Homo sapiens: one gene and its partner. The protein of the gene in region 2 purifies or fractionates together with the protein of the main gene of each other region. This does not show direct contact. Each region holds a gene or a part of one and is shown on either strand. Other genes may lie near its edges.

Region 1 (8,251 bases), on a different chromosome or scaffold from region 2:
CAGGCTACAGCTGGGACTAGAACCTATGTCTTAGACTTGCTAGTCCAGCATTACTTCCATTACTCCATGCTACAAAGTAACTAGCATCTCTATATCATATGTGACCTCCTAAATTTATCTCTATTCTCTCTCTTCCCTACCAACCCCATTCTCACACTTCATCAAGCCTTTGCAATGGCAGATGAAAAGGAATAGGTCTCAACTCCAAGTAGGTTGCTAGAGAGCTATTACTCTCCTTTCATCATGCCTTGGGTAGTCTAATCCTCTGGAAGTACAAACCCCTGCAAGACAAAAAACAGTCCAGAATCCCACCAAAGCCCCAGCCCAGCCTCAGCCCCAGCCCCAGCCCAAGCCCCAGCCCCTGTAAGCCAGCCCCTCCAGGGAAGAGAGGGAGCAATCCCAACTCACTGATGAAAATCGCAAAATGATTGTCCCGCGATGGTTTCACAGTGGGGCTGTCCACCACGTGGAGGGTGTAGCGTGGCTCCCCCGTGTCCCCATCGCACAAGTCCAGAGACACACTCCCCAGCCTGGCCTTGCGGCGCAGCTGGCTGCACAGCCAGGCATACTGCTGTCGCTCCTGCACCGCCTCGGCCAGCCGCTCGGCACTCTCCAGCCGCACAGGCTTGCGCTGCTCCTGAGCACACAGCTCAAAGATCTGAAGGGCAGAGCCAGGGACTGGCCTGAACTTGGTCATGATGAAGGCAAAGACAGGCAAGGAGAACTGAGGCTCTGCTTCCAACACCTGGTCCTGGCTGTTGGCCACTTGGTGCACCCTCACCATCCACCCCTCCCGGGAGAAGTGGCCCACTGCTTTCTTCAGGATGTGAGCCTGAGCCAGGGAGATGCAGAGATAGCGACCGCCCACCTGCAGGACACGGCCAACCTCAGCCAGCATCCTGTCCACCTGTTGTAAGGTCTTCTCTTCCTCATCTGTCAGGACAGCATCCAGGGTGCCCTTGTCCAACACCACCTGGAACGAGGCATCAGGAAACTCCATCTGCGTCATGTCCATCTTCAAGAAGCTCATCTGGGGCCGTCGGGTGGCATTACATTCCTTCATTTGCTTGATGACAACCTCACTGATGTCGATGTTCACTATATCCCGATAGCCCACATCATACAGTTGCTCACTCAGTTCTGAGTTGCCACACCCAATCACCAGCACCTGGAGAAAAAATTCACAGACAAGAGGGAGGTAATCAAAGCAAAGGACTGTACTTCAGGTACTTCAAGGAATCAAGTCTCACCTTGGCTGAGTCACATTTTCAGAAGGTGGAGACGCTACTGCCAGAGAAAGAGCGACATTGTAGAGTTGATGCTAGACTCTATCTTGAAACACCACATATACTTGCTAGTGAAAACCACATTCAGCTACAATACAGGTTATATGAGAATGGGCTTTGTGTTGCAGAAACAAATTAATCATAACTGTTCTTTTCTCTAAATCATGCACTTATTACTCAGGAATTAATAGGAAGTCAGAGAATCCAAATATAGAGTTACAGTTGAAATCCTAGGCCAGGAATAACCCTATTTCCTCACTCTACTCATGCCTTTGGCTCCTTTAGACAATAAAGTACACTTTGTGAGGATTCAAATCTTACTTCCATCACGGATTCCATCTCATGATATTTGGCTATCTTCTGAAGCCGAACTTAAAATTCAGATTGTTGTCTCCCTCTCCAGGGAGCAATCTCCCATTCAAACTTAGAAATTCTGATATTGCCATCTTTGGAAAAGCATGGTACAAAGAGATGTGCATATGCTCTGGAGCCAGACAGGCCTGAGTTTAAATCCCCACATGACCACCTGGACATGATCTTGGGCAAAAAAAAAAAAAAAAGTGGCTCTCGGGGCCTCAGTTTCCTCATCTGTAAAATGTATGCATGGCCACTCACCTGAATTTATGATGAGAATTCAAAGATTGCACATGCACATACACAGCACCCAACATAAGGCTTGGCACATAAAGCTTCCCCACAAATGTTAAGTTTTCTACCTTCCTCCTTCCCTACCTCCAGTACAATCTCACCTATACCAAACCCATTGTTGTACTTATCACGTTTCACTTCTGGAACATGTGCAGGGTTTACGTCTTAATGCTCTTATAGTTTAAGGACTGAGCAGTGCCTGAAACTTGGGGCGCACTCAACGACTATTTGAAAAACAAATTCATACACAAAGTCACACCTGCTGCAGGTTGCACAGGAATGCACAGTGACAGAAGAACATACTTTCAAGATGGGAAGTCACTCTTCAAGTAGGGTTATTAATCCAAGAATGAGCTGGGGTGGGAGGTCTATTATCTGAAAACCTTTAAAGAAATGTTTTTTTTTTTAGACAGGGTCTCACTCTGTCACCCAGGCTGGAGTGCAGTGGCGTGATCATGGCTCACTGCAGCCTCGACCTCCTGGGCTCAAGCGATCCTCCCGCCTAAGCCTCCCGAGTAGCTGGAAATACAGATGCGCGCCACCACGCCCGGCTAATTTTTTCATTTTTTGTAGAGACGAGGTCTCATGTTCCCCAGGCTGGTCTTTAACTCCAGGGCTCAAGCGATCCTCCCACCTCGGTCTCCCAAAGTGTTCGGATTACAGGTGTGAGCCACTGCGCCCGGCCTGAAAGAATATTCTAGTTTGTCTTTTAGCAGGAACAATGCAGGAAATGCTGAAATATGCGTCCAACTAGGGTCCTCCCGCCTGTCACTGTCCACCAAGTGCAAGATTCCTGTTACCAGTTCCCACCTTCCGGAGCACGTACGAAGGGCTACCAACCCGCGCTCCTCACCTTTTCCCTGGGCTTGATATATTTATGTAGCACCCCGCACAGTTCCAGGTAGGTTCCATACCACTCGAAAGCTTTCTTTCCTCGCTGCTGGAAGAACTTCTCCCAATAGTCAACGGAGCCAAACTCCCTGGAACTTTTAGGTAAGAGGTTCATGTTCCTACTGCCGAAGCTGCGTTTTCAAGACTCCCCTATTCCCTGTGAGATACCATTTGAGGAGCTTGCCCACCACACGCAGGCTCCGGGACACTGCAGTGGGAATTCTTTCCACGGAAAAACAGCCACATTGATTTGTTCCCCCACTCCAAACCCCAGGAATGACCCTTACACGACAAACGCACGCATGGACCACTGAATCTCACACACGCTTGCCCCCTCCTCCGCGCCTGCTGTTCCTTCCCCACGTGAAGAGCCCCTCACACTTTTCCCGAACTAGATTTCCGAGCCCATAACCATATCCGGGTGCGAAGCCTCGTGATTCGTCGGCCGGCCCAGCCCAACTCAGCTAGTCATTGGTCGCTGCTTTGCGTTTCTATCACCTCATTGGCTGCGACGTGCTTGCCTTTCTCCGGAGGCTCCGTCGCAGACACCTAAACGCTTTTTTGACCTGAGGCCGGCCGACCATTCACGGAACGGGGCGGGACCGCGGGCCGGAGTTGTGGCGGAAGAGGCCGGGCCTCTGTGAGAACTAGGTCACGTCCGGGTGAGGAGTGAGCGCGGCTGTGCTGTGGTTGGGCCCTCCCTCCAGGCGGGGCGGAGAGCGCGCTTGCTTCCTGGGCTCGGCCTCCGCTTTGTCTTGGAGCCGGCTTAATCACTGACTCCGATCGTGCGCCGCACAAGGGCGGAGCGCGGCAGGCGGGAGCGTACTGGTAGAGGAGGACGAAAAGAAAAACCTATACAGATAGGAGAGAAGTGAGGCAGGAAATGAGTAAAGCCAGTCCGTCGTAAAAACGCTGCACATTCTAACCTTGTCAGCTTCTGCGCACCAGCACCCCCCGCCTTATTTTGCCACCTCTGCACCAAAATATAGGATTCTGCTATCAAAAGTGTAATAACATGAAAACTCCCTCTTCCTTCTCTCCGCAAAGCACAGCATGCAAAACTAGCCTTTCATTTTGATAATTGGCCTCCTTGTGTTATTCTGACGTTATTTATAACTGCTTATTTTATGTGTTTGATAAACATACTGTACTTTCACATGCTCATGCTAATACCCTGAGGAAGCTTCTGTGAAGGGCACTTTTTTTTCAGACAGGGTCTGTCTCTGTCGCCCAGACTGGAGTGCAGTGGTGCAGTCATGGCTCACTGCAGTCTCCACTTTCCAGGGGTCAGGGGATCCTCCCACCTCAGCCTCCCAAGTAGCACGCCACTACCGCTGGCTAATTTTTTTTTTTTTTTTGTAGAAATGGGGTTTCGCCATGTTGTCCGGGCTGTTCTCAAACTCCTGAGCTCAAATGATCATCTCGCCTCACCCTACCAAAGTGCTGGGATGACTGGTGTGAGCCACTATGCTGGCAGGCACTATTTGAAAATGACCAAATATGTGTATCACTGGGCCTTTCATACCATGATAAATTGCAGGAGGAATATACTGATTGCGGAGAGCAGATAGGCTTGGAATTGAGCATGTGTGCTGTGGGCTGTTACATACTACACTACCACAGGTAGATAGCCAGGTAGACTGTTAATAGTTAAGTAGGTTAGATTGGACTTAAACATTGGTTTAAAAAAGTGATTCTCAAACTGGCATGCGTCAGAATCACCTGGAGGACTTGTTAAAACACAGAATTCCCCAGTCCAACCCCTGTTCTAAGTCATTAGTTCAGTGGTGAGGCCCAAGGATTTGTGTTTCTAACAAGTTCCCACGATGCTGATGATGTTGGTCCCGGAACCACACTTTTTTGAGAACCACTGTTTTAAAATACAATTAAGTCAAAATGGATATGGTTCAAAATTCGCAATTTTCAATGATAAATCTAAAAGCTTTCTACAAGTAACATAAGAGAAAATCTGTTTTCATGATCCCTTTGCTGAGTTCACATTGTTCCTCTCTACCCAAGATAAAGAGAAGGAGTCCTTGAAGTAGTAACTTCAGCTACTACACCATGCAAGGTTCTGAATGGGTGAAATGTGAGTTCTTTAGGAAGCACTTATTGAGAGCGGAGGACATCACTTGTACTGAATGTGCTACACGATACCAAAGAAGCAAAACAGCATAGCAGCCAGGCGCGGTGGCTCACGCCTGTAATCCTACCACTTTGGTAGGCCGAGGCGGGCGGATCACTTGAGATCAGGAGTTTGAGATCAGCCTGGCCAACATGGTGAAACCATGTCTCTAATAAAAATACAAAAATTAGCCGAGCGTGGTTGTGTGTGCCTGTGGTCCCAGCTACTCAGGAGGCTGAGGCAGGAGAATCGCTTGAACCCGGGAGGCGGAGGTTGCAGTGAGCCAAGAGATTGCGCCACCGCACTCCATCCTGGCCAACAGAAGGAGACTCCCTCTCAAAAACGACAACAACAAAAACAAACAAAAACCATAGCAGCTGCTCTGTGCCCCCCAAAGCTTTATTCAATTCAGTTCAACAAATATTTTAATTGTCTAATAGGGGCCAATCACTGTGGTAGAAGCTAAGGATGCAGTGGTAAGCATGGTAATCACGTGGAGGGCACATTAAACAATTACAAAAATAGTCTGTAATGGGAGTTATAAGTGCTGTGAAGGAGAACCATACCATTCCATGATAGTATATCTTTGTGACCTCTACTGATCTAAGGGGTAACCAGAGAAGGCTTCCCTGAGGAAGGGACAAAAATACTATATAATCTGACTGCTTAATATCAGCATGACATAGGTGAAAAACCAAAAAGCATGGTTCACCTTCTGGAACCTTTACAAGAATTTCTGGCTGCTGCTTTTCCCTCTGTCTCCATTGTCTGTTCTGTTAAGGTCATGTTATTAGAAAAGACGAAGTTATTTCTATCACAGCCCAGGCTCCAGCCCCGTATTTGATGCTCTAAAAGTATGATTACTGTTTGCAGTGTTTTTCAGACCAAAAGGGTAAGTAACTTACGTTTTTCCATCTGTGCCTGCCTCCCTTCTGTGAGCCTAAAAAAGTGATAACAACCAGAACATTTTAAGCTTAAACATACTAGAGATTTTCTAAAATTGTAAGATTAACACAGAAATATTTTAGATATATTGTAACATTAGACCCTAGCATTAACCTTTCAAAATACTTATTTGAAGCTTATTTCTCTCAAGATTTAACTATGAAATATAATTGATAGGTATGTGTTATCATTAGTATACTTAGTTAATTTAAACCAATAAGATGTTAAAATGCTTTGTGTTTTATTAGGATCCCCAGAGTGGTTAAAAATATGATTTAAAATGCAAGCTAAATTTAGATAAAGCCATTCAGTATTGTGGAGTTTTTTCCTAAAAATATAAATCCAGACCTCTGGATATATAATTTACAGTCAAACTTACTTAATTGAAACATTCTCATAATTGTGGTAATATTCAATTGATTGTTACTACGATTAATTGTAAAATAATAAAGAGGGAATAAAAAGCATCTCTGACAATTTGGGAGGCAGAGGATGAGAGAGGCAAAATAATGCTCCCCTAAAGATGTCTACCTCCTAATCCCCTGAACCGAAACTGTGAAGGTAACAGGTTACAAGGCAAAGAAGAATTAAGGTTGTAGATGCAATTAAGGATGCTAATCAGCTGACATAGCAAGATTATCTAACTGAGCTCAATGTAATCACAGGGTCCTTTTTCATTTTCTTTCTTTTTTTTTTTTTTTTTTTTTGAGACGGAGTCTTACTCTGTTGCCCAGTCTGGAGTGCAGTGGCACGATCTTGGCTCACTGCAACCTCCGCCTCCCAGGTTCAAGCAATTCTCCTGCCTCAGCCTCTTGAGTAGCTACGGATTACAGGCGTGCACACACCCAGCTGATTTTTGTATTTTTAGTAGTCTCACCATGTTGGCCAGGCTGGGCCACAAGGGTCTTTTAAAGTAGAAGAGGGAGAGACAGAAGGGCTTGGCCCAATGTTTCTGGCTTTGAAGATGAAGGAAAGCAGCCATGAACCAAGGAAAGGCGGTGACCTCTAGAACCTGGAAAAGGAAAAGAAATGAATTCTCCTGTAGAGCCTCCAGAAGAAATACGGCCCTATTGACACCTTGATTTTAATTTATTGAGACTTGTCAGACTTCTGACTGATCCAACTGTAAGATAATAAATTTGTATTGCATATAGTACTAGTTTTTGGTAATTTGTTACAGTAGTGATAGGAAACTAATACGGAACATAAACAGAAGAGAGAAAGAGAGAGAGAGAGTATGTGTGGTTGGGGCAGAAGGTCACAGTGGGGAGAAAGCAGCAGAAGATACAACTAGAGGCTGAGGTAAAGGGCAGGTTTTGAGGAGTCTTCTATTCCACATATTTAGCTTCAGCCTGTCAGGCCACAGGAAGTCAACAGAGAAGCAGAGTCATGACAGAAAGACCTGATCTGAGAGATGTTCTCAGGAAAGACTGAGGCACTTGATGACTGATTGAATAGGGGGAATAAAAGACTGAGGGACTCATAAATGACTCCTACATCGGCCTCTGGATGACTGAAGAAATAGTCTGTAGAAAGAAACGGGGAAGGAGAAAGGGGTATTATTTGTAGAACTGTTGCTAGAAAAGAATTTAGAGGTTATCACTCCAGTAAAAACCAGAGCCAGAGCTAAAAGCCAGTCTCCCCACCCTGCATGCCTACCCCAGGGCTCATACCCTTCTCACTTCCTGTCAGTGGTATCCAGTTGGAGTTGGTAGGTCCAACACATGAAAATGTTTCACGAGTGGGATATAAAATTAAGTAAAGGGAATGTCTCTTTGGTGTACAGGGAGTGGCTCATATAATGCTGGAAACTATTTCAAATTGGAAATCATCTTAGCAAATGGGTTTGTTTTCCACATTTGAGAAGTTTAAAAATGAATGTTCTCCTGTATCTTGGGATAATAGAAGGCAGACACAATAACATCCTAGGGTAACATTCTGCCATTTTATTAGCTGAGTGTCAACACTTTTCTTGACGATATTGTTGACCTGAAAAGTGACTATCAAGCTGATATTGGATTCCTAAGATTGGGATGATGATAATAGCTACTTATTTATTTATTTATTTGTTTGTTTGTTTGTTTATATAAGACAGGGTCTCACTGTGTCACCCAGGCTGGAGTGCAGTGGTGCAGTCACAGCTTACTGCAGCCTCGACTTCATGGGCTCAAGTGATCCTTCCACCTCAGTCTCCCAAGTAGCTGGGACTACAGGTACGAGCCTCCATGCCTGGCTAATTTAAAAAAATATATATTTTTGTAGAGACAGGCTCTCCCTATGTTGCCCAGGCTGGTCTCAAACTGCTGACTTCAAGGGATCCTCCCACCTCAGTCTCTCAAAGCGGTAGGATTACAGG
Region 2 (4,789 bases):
AAACCCAAAGTCTTTTTTTCTCTCAGAAACAAGATATTCTTCCATCCATCCAGTCAGATAGGTCAGCAACTTAGATGTCTTTCTGTAACTATTATTTCCTAAATAATTCCCCCAGGCTCTTTCTTTCTCTCCATTTCCACTCCCAATACTCTAATGATTTCCTAATTTATATATGGTAACCACACTGTTCTTTCCTCGCATCCATTGATATCAGCGTAGCCAGAGATGTATTTTCTAGATGTGGATATGATAATTTTATGCCCCTCTTTGACAAACAACCATCAAAGCCTGTAATGAGTTTCTTATCCCTTTAGCATAAAATAGGAAGTTCCTATGTGGTTTACAAGGCTCCTCCTGTTCTGGGATATGCCTTCTACTCCAGGCTCATCATGAACTACTCTGTTTTTAATTTTCCTTTATATATGATTAATATATCTCTAAATTATCTTTCCTATGTGTAACTGGACACTTGCCCTTTCCAGAGAGAAAACAGGTAAAGCAAAAATGATTTTATGTCATTATTTTATTGATGATGTGTTTTATAGAATCACAAAATTTAGAAACATAAGAAGGATTTAGGTATCACCTAAATTCAAAGAAATGTGTGTTTCTAGGTTGCTAAATTTGAAGAGAAAGTATGATTTGGTTTGGTTCATTTAAAACAGGTCAGAAACAGAATTATATTTCAAATTTAGAAGACACGGTATTAAATGATTCATCTTATCTTGGACATTTTTCCTCAAGGGAAATTTTTCTGGAAGGAAAAGTACATTTATATGTGGGCTTATTAAGAGAAAGAGAGAAAGGCATGCTATTTTAATCATTAAATTCTTGATGATGACTATCATCATCAAGATGAGATAGAAAAGAAATATGAGCCAAGAGAATCTGTTGTTGCCAGCAATCAGTTTACCAGAACACCTCTAGGTGAACATTTTCTAAATGGAGTGACAGACTAATTGCATCTATGGGGATGAGAATCTGCCATAGAAGAGGATGCTGTTGGTCTTATTTTGCCTTATGAAGAATAGGAAAGGGTGATTACAACAGAACTCTTCATTAGTTGAAGGAGATGATAATTCGACTACTACTACAGCGGTGGCAGCTGCAGCTTCCACTCCCTCCTCAGTGACCTCCACAAAGGCCTTGTGTAGGACTTTAGATACTGAGAGACCGTGGCTCCAGGTCATGCCTGAGAGGTCTGCATCCCCATTGAAGATATTCACCATTCCCATGGTTCTCAACGTGTCCTTGAGGTCATAGCTCTCTTCCATTTTGAACCGAGGTAAGTGTAAATCGACACATGTCTCTCTCATATTCTGCAAACTTGTCCATTCCATCAATTTCTCAGCAGTGAGTTTCTCTTCAAGCTATACAAATGGAAAAAAGAAACTGATATGACTAACTGTCGATCTCTAATACACCTTAACAATGAATTGACTATGTGGAGATTCGTTATTTTGGCAATAAATGTGAAATACAGAAGGTTCACTTTAATAGACATTATTATTCTAATAGGTAAAATATGAGTCCTGAATATATAAATACATTGGGTTATATGTGTATATGTATATACATGTATGTAAAAACAGAATCATGTTTTTACGTATATGTATATGTGTACATATGTATGTATACAACTGTATGATACACATGTAAAATATGATTACATTATTTTGTACACAATGAACTGTATGTATCACTATTTCTTGTGCCAACAGCCTACTACATGTGTCAATTTTTAATAGGCTCATCATATTTTTCTGTATACATTATTTAGTACACATTGCAATTATTAAATTGTAATTCCCTAAATTCCTAAATTTGTATTCCCTTTTCTACTCGGCCTATTTGTAAACTTTCCTCACATTGGTATATATTTCTCCCAGTCAAGTTTAAATTGCTGCATAATAATATCATCAAATTGATATCCAATGCATGTAACTCTAATAAATTAATCATTAACTAAGCCATAGATGGAATTAAATCATAGATGGGAATTGAACAATGAGAACACTTGGACACAGGAAGGTAACATCACACTCTGAGGACTGTTGTGGGGTGGGGGGAGGGGGGAGGGATAGCATTAGGAGATATACCTAACGCTAAATGACGAGTTAATGGGTGCAGCACACCAGCATGGCACATGTATACATATGTAACTAACCTGCACATTGTGCACATGTACCCTAAAGCTTAAAGTATTATAATAATAATAATAAAAACAAACAAACAAACAAAAACTAAGCTTTCAGTTTGTGTCAGGCCCTATGCTCAAATATTTGTAATATGAAGGTGAGTCATCATTCCTCATTTAGAATTTTTCATCATTTTGAGGCAACTCGGTCATAAGCTTTTACCTTGTTTAAACTTGGTATCTTTGGAAAAATGTCCGGCAGTAGAAGGAAGAGTTGTAGATGCAAGTTCTTACCTTCTGCAGACCATCGATTTCATTTGGCAGCAGCACAATCATGCTTAGATCTTTGCCTTTGTATGGTATTTCCAGGACCTTGGCCTGTACATCCTCCAGCAAGGCAAAATTAAAGGAATTGTATTGCCTCATCATCTGTACAGATTTGTATGTATTCTGCAATAAATCAATGTGTCCAACAAATAACACGTGAAACACAAGACAAAAAAGATAATATTATTGAGATAGCAACACATCCTTCTTCTTCTAAGAAATAACCCAGGAATTCCATGAGTTAGAAACAATAGTTTTTCAGGTATTCCTAACTAAATAAAGTTATAAGAGTAAAACAACAAAATAACAGACATGAACAATTTTTATTTTTTACTTATCATGTTACATTCCATCAGAAATGTTTAACATTCCATGTATTAACATATTACACTATATAAATAAAATATAGACAATACCTTGTTTGGCCAAAATTTTTCCTCTTTAGTGTTTTCTTTTTTAAATTTATTCTCCCACTGCCCTTTGAAATAGATTGCGTTCACAAGAACCAGTGTCGTATCATTGCCAATAGTCCCATCAGGAAATAGGTTTTTAATTTTTTCTGCAAGGGAAAGAATAAAAGAGTCTTTTACACAAGCTACAAATGGCTTGTCTGGAAGATGCTTTGCAAATGTTCGTGACTGATCGTTAATTATTGACCCAAATCCCTGCTTGAGACTCACTGACTTTGATCTTTGAATTGTTAGACTCACTGACCAGTGGTTCACCAGATGCAGCTTTCTTCAAGGCTCCAGTCGTATAAAGTTACCCTTGATGGAGACATCACTTCTTGTGATAGAGAAGGAGTTCACGTTCTCTGTGTATGAATGTCTCCAATCATCTGATTTGGAATACTGATAAACTGATTTTGTCTACTCTTCCAACATGTGTCTTTCCTTTCTCCCTCCCTCCTCTTCCTACTTTTATTTTTTTTTAACTACGGGGTCCCCATTCAGAGGAAGGAGGCCCTGATTGCATTTTAGGATGAGTGACTTGAGCTCTGTAATATGAAACGCATGTCCTGTGCTGTCAGACACTACTTCCGGGGGTATCTTCCTATTCACTCTCATGTTGAGTTGCTGTAAGTTTGGCCTGTAATGAGAGGTGGGAGGTAAGAAAGATGTCTGTAGAATGGAGACTTTGTCAAGCTCTTTGCCCTTGATGGGGAAGAGAGCTGTGATAATCCCTGCAGAACACATTGGCTACAGATGTGATCCAGGCAGCTCCAGCTCAGAGACAAAAGGGTGATTTACCAGAGAGCTGCTTGTTTCCCAATTAGTAAAGGAGACGAGAGACGCTTTCTAATGTTTTCTATTAAATATTCATCATAAAAATTTGAGTCTGATTTAAAGTAAAGGATATGATCTCAAAATAGGCCTGAGCGGAGACAGGGGATCCACAAAGCTATTGTCATGCAGGGCCATAAGCAAATAATTCTCCAGATGTGTTTCCATCTAATTGGCTTCCTGTGATTTCCTCCTTGGCTCCCCTAGGCTCTCTTCATATTCATTTGGACAAATCCTTCATCTGGAGTGCCCTCTTCAGCCCTCCCTGCAAACCCATCTCAATCCCCACACCTGTTCCCCCATGCAGTGTCAAGCACAAGGCTCACTGGCATAGGTTTCTCAAAGGTGTTTCTATAATGGGTGGCTCTCCTACCATTCGTTTGACTTTCCACCCAGGAGTTAATCTTCTTTCGACTTTCTTCTGGAGCATTTGCAAAATCAGTAGATTCCACACTGGTCTGGTAAAATTTCTTGATGGCATCTAAATATTCCTTTGAGATATGAAGGAAGAAGTAGGAATTAGGAGTAATTTATGTAACTATATATTACCAAACTTACTTATTTGTAACAACAGTAAGCTGAATCCAGACCCTGAATAGATGCAGTATCTCCTGTCCATGGATATTTTTATACAGGTGTCATGTAGGCAATGCAAAAGGGGAATGTGGGCTGGCACAAGAAAGAGGTCACTGAAGGTCAATATCATCTTGGCAAAAGGCAGAAGCAGAAGAGGCTGTGGTTTGCAAACTGCAGAGCAGGCTTCCCTGAAGGAGATTCATTGCTTCTCAGACTTCTCTCCAGTAATTTTAACCATGATGTTTCTGATCTTTGTTTTTGTCTTTCATCCTGTGCATTCAATATTTCCTGGTACTTCCTCAACTATTCTCAGGAACTCACCCAAGCCTGCCCATTCCAATAATATCCCATTAGTCATACATTTCCCACCAAGATGTATCGTATGTGACTGAGTCAGTGCCAGTTTATCGATGGTATCTTATTACTTATTACTCTTACTCACTCTATTACACAACCTCCTCTTTTA

Evidence for each region.
Region 1: the proteins of SERPINB4 (region 2) and METTL13 purify together in Homo sapiens (affinity purification with mass spectrometry; 3 studies listed by BioGRID and IntAct, with this or other methods). This does not show direct contact.

Annotation. Positions count from the first base shown.
Region 1 is NC_000001.11:171,776,657-171,784,907, reverse strand, and holds the start of METTL13 (eEF1A lysine and N-terminal methyltransferase), read right to left. Parts: upstream 3,249-8,251; 5' UTR 2,941-3,248; coding exon 2,788-2,940; intron 1,169-2,787; coding exon 409-1,168; intron 1-408. UniProt on the Homo sapiens protein: Dual methyltransferase that catalyzes methylation of elongation factor 1-alpha (EEF1A1 and EEF1A2) at two different positions, and is therefore involved in the regulation of mRNA translation.
Region 2 is NC_000018.10:63,636,754-63,641,542, forward strand, and holds the end of SERPINB4 (serpin B4), read right to left. Parts: intron 4,239-4,789; coding exon 4,121-4,238; intron 3,024-4,120; coding exon 2,881-3,023; intron 2,588-2,880; coding exon 2,432-2,587; intron 1,371-2,431; coding exon 966-1,370; 3' UTR 506-965; downstream 1-505. UniProt on the Homo sapiens protein: May act as a protease inhibitor to modulate the host immune response against tumor cells.